Linked DNA regions of Homo sapiens: region 2 is linked to region 1. The links come from fine-mapping of genetic effects on gene expression. A gene starts in region 1. The other region holds a variant in brackets. All regions are shown on one strand. Distances are between the middles of the regions.

The links.
Region 2: its variant is fine-mapped to the expression of TECPR1 in lung (TOPMed, PIP above 0.99). The same link has a PIP of 0.9 or more in nucleus accumbens, putamen, tibial artery and whole blood.

Annotation. Positions count from the first base shown.
Region 1 is chr7:98,247,328-98,255,648 of GRCh38, reverse strand. It overlaps TECPR1 (tectonin beta-propeller repeat containing 1), which reads left to right and starts at 3,417. Exons shown (of 26, transcript NM_015395.3): 1 at 3,417-3,523; 2 at 4,101-4,255. It overlaps LOC124901706 (a long non-coding RNA gene), which reads right to left and starts at 3,290. Exons shown (of 2, transcript XR_007060448.1): 1 at 3,121-3,290; 2 at 1-2,765. RefSeq lists enhancers at 18-312, 3,027-3,770 and silencers at 3,131-3,230, 3,321-3,710.
Region 2 is chr7:98,213,090-98,221,410 of GRCh38, reverse strand. It overlaps BHLHA15 (basic helix-loop-helix family member a15), which reads right to left. Exons shown (of 2, transcript NM_177455.4): 2 at 5,954-8,321. TECPR1 (tectonin beta-propeller repeat containing 1) reads left to right here. Exons shown (of 26, transcript NM_015395.3): 24 at 3,369-3,475; 25 at 3,600-3,719; 26 at 3,908-6,787. The coding sequence ends at 4,021. Among named protein-coding and RNA genes, the nearest start is that of BHLHA15, 5.8 kb to the right of the region's middle. RefSeq lists an enhancer at 3,066-3,125. The variant C/T (reference allele first, on the strand shown) is at 5,292.

The sequences.
Region 1 (8,321 bases):
AATAAAAGAAAGTAAAGGAATAAAAGAATGACTACTCCACAGCCAGAGCAGCAGCATGAGCTGCTGGACTGAGTATACTTATAGTTATTTCTTGGTTCTATGGTAAACAAGGGGTGGATTATTCATGAGTTTTCCAGGAAAGCAGAGGGCAATTCCTGGAACTAAGGTTTCCCCTCCTTTTCAGACCATATAGGGTAACTTCCTGACGTTGCCATGGCATCTATAAACTGTCACAGCACCGGTAGGAGTGTCTTTTAGCATGCTAATGTATTATAATTAGAGTATAATGAGCGGTGAGGACAACCAGAAGTCACTTTCATCACCATCGTGGTTTTGGCTGGCTTCTTTACCGCATCCTCTTCTATCAGCAGGGGCTTTGTGACCTGTATCTTGTGATACCAAACCTGCTGACCTCCTATTTCATCCTGTGACCAAGAATGCCCAACCTCCTGGGGATGGAGCCCAGCAGTTCTCAGCCTCATTTTACCCAGCCCCTGTTCAAGATGGAGTCGCTCGGGTTCAAACACTTCTGACCCTTGTACTGTGGCACTGACCTGATCAATGTATCCTACTGTGAAAGGAAAATAAATCTCGGGACCCCAAGATCACTACGCCAAAGAGAAAAGTCAAGCTGAGGGTCGCATCAGACAAACCTGCCTCCCGTTTTATTCTTCAATAAGATAGCTAGAAAGTTCAAAAGAGCTACATACCCCCCTCACAATTTCTCCACAAGCAAATTCCTTTCGGGCCTCAAGATCTTTGCCCTAAAACAGTTCTGATGAATTTTCCCTGGCAATGTAAATTGATAGCTTATCTTCACAGGTACAATGCAGAAAGTCAGCCCTCCGCTCACTGAAGACAAATGCATATGTGATTTCTTCCTCTGTCCTATTGTTTATACAAAATGCAGATTCACTGAGCCAGACAGTGAGTAAGGCATATGTGACTATTCCTCTACCCACTCTCACATGTAAATTGTGTATTCAGTGAAAGGCTGATCACAGACTCAAAAGAAAGCAAACTTTTGGCCGGGCATGCTGGCTCACGCCTATAATCCCAGCACTTTGGGAGGCTGAGATGGGTGGATTACCTGAGGTCAGGAGTTCAAGACCAGCCTGGCCAACATGGTGAGATCCTGTCTCTACTAAAAATAAAAAAATTAGCCTGGCGTGGTGGCACACACCTGTAGTCCCAGCTACTCAGGAGGCTGAGAAAGGAGAATCGCTTGAACCTGGGAGGTGGAGGTTGCAGTGAGCTGAGATCTCACCACTGCACTGCAGCCTGGGTGACAGAGTGAGACTCCCTCTCAAAAAAAAAAAAAAAAAAAAAGAACTCGGGATAGGGGGACATGGGTCCCCAAGCCCCTGAATTCAGGAAAACTATATTGAACTTTGTCACCACACATGAAAACTGCAAGGGGCCACAGAAAGCTCCTAATTCAATGCCTCTTTTTCATTTTTTTTCAATGCCTCTTTTAATGTGGAAACTAAAGCTAAAGAGGAGATAAATGGCTACAGAGTGTCACAGGCAGGACAGAACCCAGGGCTCCCTACCTCTAGACTGTTTCTCCAGCAGTCTAGCGACCACTCATCCTCCTTTTTTTTTTTTTTTTTTTTTTTTGAGACAGAGTTTTGCTCTGTTGCCCAGGCTGGAGTGTAGTGGCACAATCTCAGCTCACTGCAAGCTCCGCCTCCTGGGTTCACCTCATTATCCTGCCTCAGCCTCCCGAGTAGCTGGGACTACAGGCGCCCGCCACCACGCCCGGCTAATTTTTTGTGTTTTTAGTAGAGACGGTGTTTCACCATGTTAGCCAGGATGGTCTCATCTCCTGACCTCATGATCCACCCGCCTCGGCCTCCCAAAGGGCTGGGATTACAGGCGTGAACCACTGCGCCCGGCCCACTCATCGTCCTTCTGCTAATAGCACCCTGATCTTCCTCTGAGGAGCCACCCCCTGTGCCTGGCTGAGCCCTTATGCTTGAGGGGGGCTCTGCCCACATCTCCAGACCAAGTCCACAAATGCCAGTCCCTCAGGCCCAAGCTAAAGTCAGGGTCAGACACAGGACTCCACAGAGCCATCCGGGGTGAACAAGAGGCTTCTGGGGGCGTTTTCTTCCACTGGAGCTGGCCTGTGTGGGGCTTCCCCAAACATGAAGGCCCAGGAAAAGCCTGTGTGCAACCCCAGAAATGAGACAGAACTAGAGGGGGAGCAGGAATAGGTCCCTAGGTCCAACCAGGTGACATTGGTTTAGCTCAATGTCGGGTAGTATCTAGCCTTCCATCAGATGCCCTTTTTTTTCTTTTTTGAGAAGGAGTTTTGCTCTTGTCGCCCAGGCTGTAGTGCGGTGGCACAGTGGCACGATCTCAGCTCACTGCAACCTCCACCTCCCCAGTTCAAGCGATTTTCCTGCCTCAGTCTCCCGAGTAGCTGAGATTACAGGCATGCGCCACCACCCCTGGCTAATTTTGCATTTTTACTAGAGACGGGGTTTCACCATCTTGGCCAGGCTGGTCTCAAACCCCTGACCTCAAGTGATCCGCCCGCCTTGGCCTCCCAAAGTGCTGGGATTACAGGTATGAACCGCCGCACCTGGCCGACATCTTTCTTTTTTCTCCTTTCTCCATCCTAACCTTGCCAGTTTTCTGCCAGGCGGGATACAGTGTTTTCAAATCCCAGTTCCATCGCTTACAACGTGAGTCGCTCCATCTCTGAGCCCGTGTTCGCATTTGTAAAATGGGAATGACGCCGCCAGCTCTTTGGGTTGCTGGGAGGATGAAATGAGAAGACCCAAGTAAAGCACTTACGTCAGTGCCCGCCACCCCGGGAGGACTCGCATATTACTATTAATATATTAGGCCAGCTTACACTGGGTTTTGTCACTGACAATAGAGTTTGAGCAATCCAGGGCCTGTTACTGACACCACACCATGCTATAGTCACAAAATCACATATGCTTCCAGGACTCCTCCTCGAAAGAGTAAAGCTTTAAGTGTAGTGTGTGCTCAAGGGCTACGTTTCAGTTCGATGGATACCAGGAAGACACCTGTTCCCTGCGTCCTCTCCACGCCCCAGGCCGGGCGCCCACACCCTGCTCCTCCTGACGCCGCACAGCCACGCACCCAGGTACCCTCTCCGCCACCCCTTCTCCTCGCCTGCAGGCGGTGTCCACACCGCCCTCTCCGCTCCTGCAGACCGGGTCCTGGAGGGCGGCCGGGCGGTCCACGGGCCGGTGTCGCGCCGCCAGAGAGAACGCGGCAACTCGCTTCAGCCGACTCTGGACTCCTGACCTGGCGCGACCCCGGAAGTGGGCGGGCGCGCGACCTCGAAGCCAGCACCGACGCGGCGCACCGCAGCCAATCGCACGTCCCAGGTCGCAGCGTCCTGGCGAGGCTGGCCAATGGGCACGGGGCCTGATGCCGCTTCCGGCCCACCCTCTTGCCCGGTCCCCGGGAGGGCCGGTCCGCTCCTCCCGGACGCCGAGGACCTACCACCGCGACTTCGCCCCGCCCGGCGCGGGCCCAGGTGAGTGCAGAGTGGCGCCCCAGCTGCAGCGGCGGCCAGGGCCGTGGGAAAGAATGGGGCGATGAAGGGCTGGGCACGCCGCCTTCCCCACCACCCCCAGGCTGTTTGCTCGCGGGGAGGGAGGAAGGAGGGACCGCACTTGTCATCTCGCCTGCACACCTGGAAGGTGCCGCCCCCGTCCCCTGCCCTGGAACGCCCACAGGCTAGCGAAGTTGCCTGGTGCAGGTGACGCCCCCATTCCAGCCTTTGGACTGGAGCCATAGGAGAAGCGGATCGCGGGATCCTGGTTGTTTTCGAGAATCACGCAGCAAGGGGCCTGCCTATCCCTCTCCCTGGGTATTGATGGGAGCAAATCTGCTTGTCGTAAGATTAGCTTTGGCAGATGGTCAGGGCCCAGAGCTCCGACATATGCTACTGGTGGCAGTGCAGGGGCCCCACCTGTCACCCAAGTGCACAGCACTGGGCTGAACGCCAGGCTGACTCAGGACACCTCCTGCCCGGTGGGGCTGGGCGGACCCTATTCTTCAGGAAAGAATCAACTACCATGCAAGTTCTGCTGCTTTTTCCCACCTTTTAGGACCCTGATGTCGCTTTTGAACAGCCCCTGCACCTGGCAGCCAGCGAGCTACTGTAGTAGGCATTGCCGACTGTTTGCATACCGGATGGGAGTGACAGTGTAATAGAAAAACAAGCAAGAAACCTTTTAGGTAGGACTCCTAAGGCTCAGAGGAAGTAAGTGCTTGCGGAGCGTTCTTTGTACTGTGTCTTTTCCTCTACCACATCTCTGTCCCCGCCTCTCTTGGGTGCTTTTTTTGGTCTCTGAAAGGATCTGTGAATAAACTGAGACAGAAAGGCAGATGGCTTTGAGGGTGGCGAGCAGACCTTCTTCGTGGAAAGACTGAAGGTTCAACTCAAATTCATCTTGTAGAAATTCTTGGTGAATTCGAGGCTGCTGATTTGGAAGATTTTCCTCCATCCCTCTAACCCTACAAAACAAACAAGTCCCAGGATCCCTGAATCATGGGGCTTCATGTTCCAACCCCCCTTTCAAGAGTCCTCTGACCCAGTGACCCTGTGTAAGTTGCCTGATCAGCTCACAGCCAGAAAGTGGCCCATGAGGAGCTAGGGGGAGCCTCTTGGCAGAGGCAGAAAGAAAGTGTGGCTGACCAAGGATGGTTACCGGATGTCAACTGTAGCTAGGAAGTGACGACAGGTGCCTGGGTCTCTACTCTGAAGGGAGTTTGTAAATACAGCAACCCCCCACCCCTCCCTTTCACTGTAGCAGAGTCTTCTCCCATTAACTGCCCAGAAGATTCAATGATGTCTATGAGGAAATTAGTGCTTAGTCATTTATTTGAAGGAAAGTCAAAATCTCCTTTCATTGAGCTCAACCTGCAGACTGAGTCTAGCTAAACTGCTTGCTTATCCAGTGAATTCTGAGCTATCTTTGTTTTGTTGTTGTTGTTGTTGTTGTTTGTTTTCCTTTTTGAGACAGGGTCTCGCTCTGCTGCCCAGGCTGGAGTGCAGTGGCACAATCATAGCTCACTGTAGCCTCAAACTCCTGGGCTCAAGTGATCCTCCTGCCTCAGCCTCCCAAGTAGCTAGGATCACAGGCATGTGCCACCACACCTGGCTAATTTTTTTTTTAACTTTTTATTTTTACAGAGATGGGGTCTCCCTGTGTTGCTTAGGCTGGTTTTGAACTCCTCGGCTCAAGCGATCCTCCCACCTCAGCCCCGGAAAGGGCTGGGATTACAGGCATGAGCTACTGCACCTGGCCTCTGAGCTATCTTTGAAGGCTAACTTATATTTAACACTATAGAAAGTGACAATTAAAAAAAAAAACCTTCGTCTTCCCCTAGCATTTTATTGAGGATTTTCCCACATACAGCCAAGTTGAAAGAATTATACAGTCAGCATCCCCATCCCCACCAACTAGATTCTACTATTGACACTTTACTTGCTTTATCACATATCTGTCCACCAATTATGACCTTACTTTTCAAGTTATTTGTGGCATTTGTTTTCCCTGGAGAAGTATTTCTGTCTTAGATCAGGGAGTTGGCAGTGTGTTGGAGGTAGGTGGTGGTGATTATCCTTAAATGTTGTTTCAACACCCACTGTGTGCAGAGACTATTATGGAAATGAAGAGGCTGAAGACTCAGACCTGAAAGGGACTTGGTTTTTTGTTTTTCTTTTTTTTTTTTTGAGATGGAGTCTTGCTGTGTTGGCCAGGCTGGAGTGTGGTGACACGATCTTGGCTCACTACAATCTCCTCCTACCAGGTTCAAGCGATTCTCCTGCCTCAGCCTCCCAAGCCGGCTAATTTTTGTAGTTTTAGTAGAGACGGGTTTCACCGTGTTGGCCAGGCTGGTCTCAAACTCCTGGCCTCAAGCAATCTGCCCGCCTTGGCCTCCCAAAGTGTTGGGATTACAGGCATGAGCCACCACGCCCAGCCCTATTCTGCCTTTTATAGATTAGGAAATTAAGGCACAGAGAGGTTAGTTAGCTTTTGGTGGTACAAGAAAGTGAGGATCCCAGAATGCAGCATTCTGAGATCCAGGCAGCTCTGGACTCTCTTAGTCACTGTGAAGGTGCCAGAGGGACCCTCAGTCCTGATCAGTGAGGCACGAAGGGGTCACCAGGGGTCCCAGCTCAGTTTCAGATGGTTCCAGAAAGCTGGTGTTCTGATTTTCTCATATGTTTGACGGGCCTTGGTGTCCTGGGATGGAGGGGGTCAGCTGCTCTGGGAGGGGCTCTTACTCCCCGGGCTTCCTCCATTCTGCTGGGCAGTCTCCCTCCTATTCTTTTCCCCCACTTCCTGTTATGGGAGTTTCCCAGAGCTGAGCTTTTGTTCTGCTTCCTGTCTTCCTGTTCCTCACCCTCTCACTCACTTCCTTCTCAACCTGCAATCTGTCTTCTTGGTGTTTGTAAGATATACCTTGTCCCAGCCAGGGCCAGGGGCTCCTGCCTGTAATCGTAGCACTTTGGGACGGATCACCTGAGGCCAGGAGTTCGAGACCAGCCTGGCCAAAGTGGCAAAACCCCATCTCTACTAAAAATACAAAAATGGGCCAGATGTGGTGGTGCAGGTCTGTAATCCCAGCTACTTGGGAGGCTGAGGCAGGAGAATCACTTGAACCCAGAAGGTGGAAGTTTCAGTGAGCTGTGATTATGCCACTGCACTCCAGCCTGGGAGTAGAGGAAGACTCTGTCAAAAAAAAAAAAAAAAGATGCACCTTGTCCCCAAAGAGCCTAGTTTTTTGTTTTGTTTTTTTTTGAGACGGAGTCGCACTCTGTCATCCAGGCTGGAGTGCAGTGGTGCAATCTCGGCTCTCTGCAACCTCCACCTCCTGGTTCCAGCGATTCTCCTGCCTCAGTCTCCTGAGTAACTGAGATTACAGGCACGCGCCACTGTGCCTGGCTAATTTTCACCTTTTTTTTTCAGTAAAGATGGAGTCTCACCATGCTGGCCAGGCTGGTCTCAAACTCCTGGCATCAGGTGATCCATCCGCCTTGGCCTCCCAAAGTGCTGGGTTTACAGGTGTGAGCCACCACACCTGGCTTTTTTTTTTTTTTTTTTTTTTTTTTTGCCGGTGGCAGCTGCTCCTCTTTTCAGACATGCTTCTATCTCGTGCCATCGTCACAGTCACCCGGCCGTCTGGAGCACCCGCATGGCTCTGGTATGCTGCGGGAGCACTGGGCCCAGCCTCCAGGCACCTAAATAAACTCTGCCTGTCTCCTTTTGCTCCGGTTTTTAAGTCAGACTGGCCATGTCTTCATCTGTAGGCTCTTTCCTCTCTTCAGGCCCCGGGCCAGTGTCCTGGGTTGGATCTAGGAGCCGCCCTGTCGGGCAGAGCTTCTCAGGTGATGGCCCTGGTGGCTTCATCCAGTAGCTCTGTGTTTGGCTGCCTTGTGTGTGGCCATGTGGCCCTGCCACGGTGGAAAGACTGTTCCTATCAGGAGCCAGGACTCCAGGAAGGACACCCCTGGGTGCAACAGCACTATGGGCCCTGGAGGTGGGGCCAGGGGTGGTCAGTGGCAGAGCTTAGCAATAGCCTTGGCTATGCCTACAAAGCACAGAGAAAGAAGAGAGAAAGGGCTGGGTGCAGTGGCTCACGTCTATAATCCCAGCGCTTCGGGAGGCCAAGGTGGGAGGATCGCTTGAGGCCAGGAGTTCAAGACCAGCCTGGGCAACATAGCGAGACCCCATCTCTACAAAAAAAATTTTAAAAATTAGCCAGGTACGGTGGCACATGCCTGTAGTCCCAGCCACTCAGGAGGCTGAGGCAGGAGGATGGCTTGAGTTCAGGAGTTCAAGGCTGCAGTGAGCTATGATTGCACCACTGTACTCCAGTCTGGACAACAGAGCAAGATACTCTCTTAAAAAATAAAAAAGAAAAGAAAAGAAAAAGAAAGGAGTAGAGAATGGCAGAAGAAGAGAGCCGGGGGAAGAGGAGGAAGGAGTCACTGAGGGCGCATGAAGAAAAGACCCCTACGTCCCTGAATTCACATGGTCACGTTGGCTCTCAACGTGCCCTCATTATGCCCAGATAGAGGCCAACATGGCGGGGAGACCTGCCCACTCTGGGGAAGGACCCCTGGGGAAGTAGTGGGGTAGTTATATCTTTCGAGATTCAACTAAACCTGTAAGCTTTCATTGATTCTTTTGAAAACAAAGATCTGGCCAGGCATGGTGGCTCAAGGCTGTAATCCTAGCAGTTTGGGAGGCCGAGATGGGAGGATTGCTTGAGACTAGGAGTTTGAGACCAGCTTGGGCAACATAGTGAGACTCTGT
Region 2 (8,321 bases), 34 kb after region 1:
ATGCATAATATCACATCAGGGTAAAGGGAGTATCCACCTCCTCAAGCCTTTATGTTACAAACAATCCAATTCTACTCTTTTAGTTATTATTGTTATTATTTTTTCTTTGAGATGGAGTTTCGCTCTTGTCTCCCAGGCTAGAGTGCAGTGGTGCAATCTCGGCTCACTGCAACCTCCACCTACTGAGTTCAAGCGATTCTCCTGCCTCAGCCTCCCAAGTAGCTGGGATTACAGACACGCACCACCACACCTGGCTAATTTTTATATTTTTAGTAGAGGCGGGGTTTCACCATATTGGCCAGGCTGGTCTCAAACTCCTGACCTCAAGTGACCTGCCCACCTCGGCCTCCCAAAGTGCTGGGATTACAGGTGTGAGCTACCGCGCCTGGCCCTCTTTCAGTTATTTTAAAATGTACCATTAGCCAGGCACAGTGGCTCATGCCTATAATTCCAGCACTTTGGGAGGCTGAGGTGGGCGGATCACTTGAGATCAGGAGTTTGAGACCAGCCTGGCCAACTTAGTGAAACCCATCTCTACTAAAAACACAAAAATTAGGCCAAGCGCGGTGGCTCACACCTGTAATCCCAGCACTTTGGGAGGCCGGAGCAGGCGGATCACAAGGTCAGGAAATCGAGACCATCCTGGCTAACAGTGAAACCCTGTCTCTACTAAAAATACAAAAAATTAGCTGGGCGTGGTGGCGGGTGCCTGTAGTCCAAGCTAATCGGGAGGCTGAGGCAGGAGAATGGCGTGAACCCCAGAGGCGGAGCTTGCAGTGAGCCGAGATTGCGTCACTGCACTCCAGCCTGGGTGACAGAGCGAGACTCCGTCTCAAAAAAAAAAAAGCCAGATGTGGTAGTGCGCACCTATAATCCCAGCTACTCAGGAGGCTGAGGCAGGAGAATCGCTTGAACCTGGGAGGAGGAGGATATTGATTGCAGTGAGCCAAGGCATGCCACTGCACTCCAGCCTGGGTGACAGAGCAAGACTCTGTCTCAAAAAATAAAATAAAAATAAAAATAAATAAAGTAAAATGTACCGTTAAAAAATTTTTTTTTTGTTTTTGAGACGGAATTTCATTCTTGTTGCCCAGGCTAGAGTACAGTGACATGATCTCGGCTTACTGCAACCTCCGCCTCCCAGGTTCAAGCGATTCTTCTGTCTCAGCCTCCCAAGTAGCTGGGATTACAGGTCCCTGCCATCATGCCTGGCTAATTTTTTTGTATTTTTAGTAGAGATGGGGTTTCGCCATGTTGGGCAGGCTGGTCTCGAACTCCTGACCTCAGGTGATCCGCCCACCTCCGCCTCCCTAAGTGCTGGGATTACAGGCATGAGCCACCGCGCCTGGCTGTGTTGTTTTTTGACTTTATAATAATGGCCAGTCTTGCAGAAATAAAGTGGTATTAATATCTCAGTGTGGTTTGGATTTGCATTTCTCAGATGATTAGTGGTGTTGAGCATTTTTTCATGTTTGTTGGTCATTTGTATATCTTCTTTTTTTTTAATTTGAGATGGAGTTCTGCTCTTGTTGCCCAGGCTGGAGTGCAGTGGTGCGATCTCGGCTCACTGCAACCTCTGCCTCCCAGGTTCAAGCGATTCTCCTACCTCAGCCTCCCGAGTAGCTGGGATTACAGCCATGCACCAACACACCCGGCTAATTTTGTATTTTTAGTAGAGATGGGGTTTCTCTGTGTTGGTCAGGCTGGTCTCGAACTCTCAACCTCAGGTGATCCGCCTGCCTTGGCCTCCCAAAGTGCTGGGATTAAAGGCATGAGCCACCGCGCCCAGCCGCATATCTTCTTTTGAGAAATGTCTATTCATGTCATTTGGCCACTTTTGGATGGGATTATTGGTTTTTTGTTTTTTGTGTGTGTGCTGATTTGTTTGAGTCCTTCTAGATTCTGGTTATGAGTCCTTTGTCAGTTGCATAGTTTGCAAATATTTCCTCCTATCCTGTGGGTTTTCTGTTTACTCTGATGATTATTTCTTTTGCTCTGCAGAAACTTTTTAGTTTAATTAGGGCTCCTTTATTTTTGTTTTTGTTGCATTTGCTTTTGGAATCTTAGTCAGAAATCCTTTGCCCAGGCAAAGCCCTTGAATAGTTTTTCCTAGGTTTTTTTTATAGAATTTGTATGGTTTTAGGTCTAGATGTAAGTGTTTGATTCATCTTGAGTTGTTTTTTTAATATGGTGAGAGATACGGATCCAGTTTCATTATTCTACATGCGACTATCCAGTTTACCCAGCACCATTTATTGTATAAAGTGTCCTTTCCCCAGTTTATGCTTTTGTATGCTTTCTCAAAGATCAATTGGTTGTGGGTATCTGGCTTTATTTCTTGGTTCTCTCTTCTGTTCCACTGGTCTATGTGTCTATTTTTATAGCAGCACCATGCTGTTTTTGTTACTGTAGGCTTGTAGTATAATTTGAAGTCCAGTAATGTGATGCCTCCAGATTTGTTCTTTTTGGTTAGAATTGCTTTGGGCATTGAGGCTCTTTGTGGGTTCCATATTAATTTTAGGATTTTTTTTTCTAATTCTGTAAAAAATGATGACAGTATTTTAATAGGAATTGCATTGAATCTGTAGATTGCTTTGGGCAGTATGATCATTTTCATGATATTGATTCTTCCACTGATTCATCCCATACTCATCAATCCATGAATATGGGATGTATTTCCATTTGTTTCTGTCATCTATGATTTCTTTCAGCAGTGTTTTGTAGTTCTCCTTATAGAGATCTTTCACCTCCTTGGTTAAGTACATTCCCAGGTATTTTATGTTATTTTTTGCAGCTGTTGTAAAAGGGGTTAATTTGATTCTCAGCCTGGTTGCTGCTGGCATGTAGCAGTGCTACTAATTTGTGTGCATTGATTTTGTAACCTGAGACTTTCCTGAACTCATATGTCAAATCTAGGAGTCTTTTGGAGGCGTCTTTAGGGTTTTCTAGGTATTTGATCCTATCATGGGCAAACAGACACACCGTGACTTCCTCTTTTTCGATTTGGATGCCCTTTCTTTCTTTCTCTTGCCTGATTGCTCTGGCTAGGACTTCCCTTGTCCATAGTTTCTGCCTCAGCAGAAAGAGGATCAGGAGGCCGGCCGTGCCCAGCACAATAGGGCGATTATGAGGCTCGGGGGACGCCCCGAGTGTGCAGAAGGCGGAGCTGGCTGCAGCCCAGGCTCCTGAGTGTGGAGAAGCGGAGGAGGCTGTGGCCCTGACTCAGGGGCCAGGACCCTCCTGCCTCCCCAGCAGCTTCCCAAACCCCGAAGTGGTTAGAGCGGGGCCTGGCCACCGGCTGCCGGGCCGCACGGGCAGGAGGGGCCGGGAAGGTCTTCCCCTTTGACCCTCACTGCTTTTCTCCCCAGGAAACCTGTGGTATCGCCAAGGGATCACGCCCAGCTACCCGCAGGGCTCCAGCTGGGAGCACGTGTCCAACAACGTGTGCCGAGTGTCCGTGGGGCCCCTGGACCAGGTGGGGGTGCTCAGGGGGTATCGGGCACTTGGGGTGCTCTGGTTCCCTCTCTGGTCTCCCCCATCCCATGCCCAGCCGTCCCACTGCAGGTAGGGCTGAGGGCTTCATGGGGTCTGTGCTCCAGGTCTGGGTGATCGCCAACAAAGTGCAGGGCAGCCACAGCCTGAGCCGGGGGACAGTGTGTCATCGCACCGGCGTGCAGCCTCACGAGCCCAAGGGCCACGGCTGGGACTACGGCATCGGGGTGAGCGGGGCCCGCGGCCTTGGGCTGTGTTATCACCTTGTGCCTGCACTGGGTGCTGAAGACGGGACGACCACTGTGGGACTGTCCCCTGGGACCCGGTGTCTGGGTTGCAGGGAGGCCCCCAGGCAGATCCCCTCCAGGATCCTCGAGTCCCCGAGTCCCCTGGTGACACAGCTCTCTCCTTCCAGGGAGGCTGGGACCATATCTCTGTCCGGGCCAATGCCACCAGGGCCCCCCGGAGCTCGTCCCAGGAGCAGGAGCCGAGTGCCCCACCAGAGGCCCATGGCCCCGTCTGCTGCTGAGGCCCCCCCACACACCTACATGCAGGGACGGTGCCCAGTTTGGGGGATCAAGGCTGAGCCATTCTTGTGCTGGAGTGTGCACCGTGGGAGCAATGTGGCCCAGGTGGACTCAGGAGGGAACCTGGCCCCAAGGCTGCGGCCACTTCAGAGGCACTGGCTGAGACGGCCCTGAAATGTGAAGCTCCGCGGACACTCCCACACGTGTCCCCGTCTGCGAGGAGTCCCGGGGTGTGGGGCATGGGGTGGGGCTGCACCTCCCAGAGGCCCCTCCCACCCTTCCCTTCCCCTCTCCCTTCTGCCTTTCCAGGACTAGAACCGGGAACCTGGAGCCCTCCGGGAACGCCGGCCCTGGGGCAGCAGAGCCAGGATGGAGCCCTCCTGAGCTGGCATCTCAGACAGCACCCGGGCCCGCCACCCCTCACCAAGAGAGATGGCCATGGGGCTCAGGGCCTCTTTACCATGTGCAGTGACCATTTCTCAGAGCAGGACTTGCAAAGAGGCTTTAATTTCAAAAGTGAAGGAAGGAGGCCAGGCGCCGTGGCTCACGCCTGTAATCCCAGCACTTTGGGAGGCTGAGGTGGGCAGATCACCTAGGTCAAGAGTTTCAAACCAGACGGGCCAACATGGTGAAACCCCATCTCTGCTAAAAATACAAAAAAAAAAAAATTAGCTGGGCATGGTGGTGGGTGCCTGTAATCCCAGCTACTCGGGAGGCTGAGGCAGGAGAATCGTTTGAACCCGGGAGGCGGAGGCTGCAGTGAGCCGAGATCATGCCACTGCACTCCAGCCTGGGCGACAGAGACTCCATCTCAAAAAAAAAAAAAAAAAAAAGTGAAGGAAGGAGACAGCAGATTGGAAATAACACTGGAGTGGATGGGATGTCCTCTTCCCTGAGGGGGCCGGGGTACCAGACGGGAGGCTGGGAGAGGATGAGAGGCTGCCCCATGGCTGGAGGCAGTGTCCGTGTGTGCAGTCACCATCATCAACCCCCATTCGGCCCCTTCCCCAGATGCGCTGGTGACAGGGGCTTCTTGGATGTCAAATCATGTTGTAGGAGGGTGCAGACTGCGGGCTTCTGTGGGGAGCAGTACTACTGTGTCTGTCGGCAGTGGCCATGGGACCCTCAGCCCGTCCTGTACATGGAGCAGGGTGCACAGTCACCCTCCATCCTGTGGCGAGAGGCTGGCCCGGCCCGGCCAGGCGAGGCAGAAGGTGTCGGCCAAGTGGCCCCGACCCCATCCCGCAGTCTCTCAGCTGCTTTTTATTACCT[C/T]TGTGCCCCATTTGGGAGTTTGCTTCCTCCACCTGGACACTTTGCCCGGGAGGTCATCAGAGCCCAACCCCAGGCTCTGCTCGGTTGGAGAGGGGATGACTTCACCACCACCTGACCTTCCTAGGGTCCTGGTCTCACTGTCAGCTGGGGGTCCGTTGTGTGTATTTGTACAGTTTTGCTGTATGGGGTTTGTCACCCAAAAGCTGATGCTGAGAAAGGCCTCCCTGGGGCCCCTCCCGCGGGCATCTGAGAGACCTGGTGTTCCAGTGTTTCTGGAAATGGGTCCCAGTGCCGCCGGCTGTGAAGCTCTCAGATCAATCACGGGAAGGGCCTGGCGGTGGTGGCCACCTGGAACCACCCTGTCCTGTCTGTTTACATTTCACTATCAGGTTTTCTCTGGGCATTACGATTTGTTCCCCTACAACAGTGACCTGTGCATTCTGCTGTGGCCTGCTGTGTCTGCAGGTGGCTCTCAGCGAGGTACGGGGAGGGCGTCACCCTGCAGAACGGCAGAGTGACGCGTCCTCTCGCTGCTGAGCACCAGCTGTTTACCTGCCCTGCATCACTTCCTCGGATACTTTACTCAATAAGCATTTCCCCTGGAGTGTCCGTGCCCTGGTGTTTTTTATCGATACGTTGATTAAAACGCGTGGTTCCCCGTGTGCCTGAAGCAGACATTGCTGTGAAATCTTTTATTTTTGTTTTATGACACAGCATCAATTTCATGAATACTTTGAAAGGGCCATTAGAAAAAATAAGAGCCAATTTGGGTCATTTGAGAAACATTTTCAGCACAATTACAGTGGGGGCACGGGCCGTTCGGCTCCAGCTGGGTTTTCCCAGATGCAACAATCGCGGTTCTGGCTTCTCCACTGGTGGGGATGGGGATCGCGCCTTCGGAGCTCTCAGGGCGCCTGTCTGTCGGGGGCTGGGTGCGTCCACAGCCCCGGGGGATGGCGCGTGGCGTAGCCCAGGAACGGCATGTGGGTGGGTCTCTGACCTGCTTGTGCAGGGACTTGAGGGACCTCATCCCGATGGCCGAGGCAGGGGCTCCCCACGGGATAAAAGGATCCGGCCTGGCCTTGGGGTCCAAGAGGAGGGCCAAGGGAGTGGACCTGGCCCCTGTCCCCTCTCCTCCTCGAAACACTGGACACCCTGAAGCGAGACTATGGCTGCTGAGGATCCTGTGTGATGTGGCCGCGGGGCGTCCCCTCTGGCCTCAGGGGAAGAAGGACTGGGCGGCTCGGCCCAGGTCACCCTCTAGGAAGCAGAGGAGGTGCAGGTGCCAGTTCAGGGCAGAAAGAAAGAGCCACTGAGGCCATTGTCCTGAAGGCGGTGACCCCCAGGCACTCCTGCTGCCCCCCAGGAAGCCCTGGGCTGCGCTGGACACCGGGCCGAGTCTCCGTCTTCTGGACCGAGGCTCTTCTGGGCTTTCAGGCTCAGCTCGTCGGTCCATTCAGCAAGTTCAGGGGCAGACTGAGCCCTGCTCTGGCCATGGCTCAGCCGGAAACAAGAGCTGCCATGTTCGTAGCACCTGAGTACCCCCGCCGGGGAGGTCTCTGTCATCTCATGTCCCCGCTGGGCAGGTGCCCCACAGCAGGGGAGCCCTGGGCTCTCTCTGTCCCAAGCTCCCAGCTGCATCCAACCTCAGCTCACAGTTGTGGATCACCCTGACCTTCCAGAGTGCCCCTCCCAAGGGGCAGACCCAGCATCCTGGAGTCCCCACCCCGAGCTGTGCTGAAGGACAGCTGGGGCGGTAGGGCCAGGACCAGACCAGGCCTCTGACAAAGTCTCATCGAAATGAAACCAATGTGCCCGGGCCACCTTAAGGGGCCCTGACCAGGAAAGTTAGGCCTGAAGCTGCCAATGCCAGATCCTCAGGGTGTTACCTGTGTCCTTACGTGGCTAGGCCTGACCCCAAGTGCCACAACCCCCAACTTGGGGAGGGCAGGGCCACCTGGTGGGGACGGGCCAGCCAGAGCCCTTGGTCTCAGCTGTGGCAGCCACATCCCTGGCCCGGCTTGGCCCTGAGGGCCTTTGGGACATCTCTGGGCAGAGGCATGAGGGAGGGGAGAGTCCAGTAGCCAAGTCCGGCAGAGCCAGTGGGGCAGGAACGCCCAGCAGAAGGAAGCTGGGCTTGGGGCAGCAGAGACGTGCCAAGCCACCAGGCCTGGCCATGAGGATGAAGCACCTGGGCGGGGGAAGGGACGTACCTGCCACCCCAAGGCTCCACCAGGCAGAGAGACCCAACGGGCTGCCAACTCAAACCAGAACCCAAGCACGTCATAATGTCCTACAGACAGCATGGTGCCAATTATATGATAACCCCACATCAGTGAGAATAAGTAACGGCGGTGGCAGGGGCTGGGTGGGGGGCACACTCGCTCCCCACACAGGCCAGGGCTGAGCAGGAGGCCTCAGAGCTGCTCTTGGGGAGCAACCCAGGGCCTTGGGGCTTCTCTCCCATGCCCAGAAGGGCTGCACCAGGAACACCCAGCCCTGTCTCCTGCTCCAGTTCCACAGCACCCCTCACACCCTGCCCCAGACCCTCCACAACCAGGCACAGCCTGGAGTCAACACATCCAGGAGCCCCAACTTGGGAGGAGGGAGGAAGAGACTCCAGCCCCTCCCCACCATTCAACTTTTAAGGATGAATTGGAGGTCATCTGATTAGAGTTTCTGGCAGCTCCAATCATCTCTGATTGGCCCCACTCCCCGAGCAGCCTTAGGCTCTGCCGGGCTTGTCCCGGGCCTCAGTTTACCCCAAATGAGGATGCTGAGCCCAGGCCCCATGTAGCCCTATAACAAAGGTTGGAGAGGGGGTCCTTGCTGGGGCTTTGGCCTTGGAAAACCTGCAGGTAAACCTTTTCCTGGGATCTCCCCTTGCCCAGAAGTCAGGGTGAAGAGACGTTAGTTCCAAGGCTAAGGAGGCCTTTCAACTCGGGCTGAGACTGCCTGGCTCAATGAAAAATCAGGATCCAACTGGGCCCTACCTAGAGGTTTGGGCCTCACGCCGCTGTCCAGGGCCAC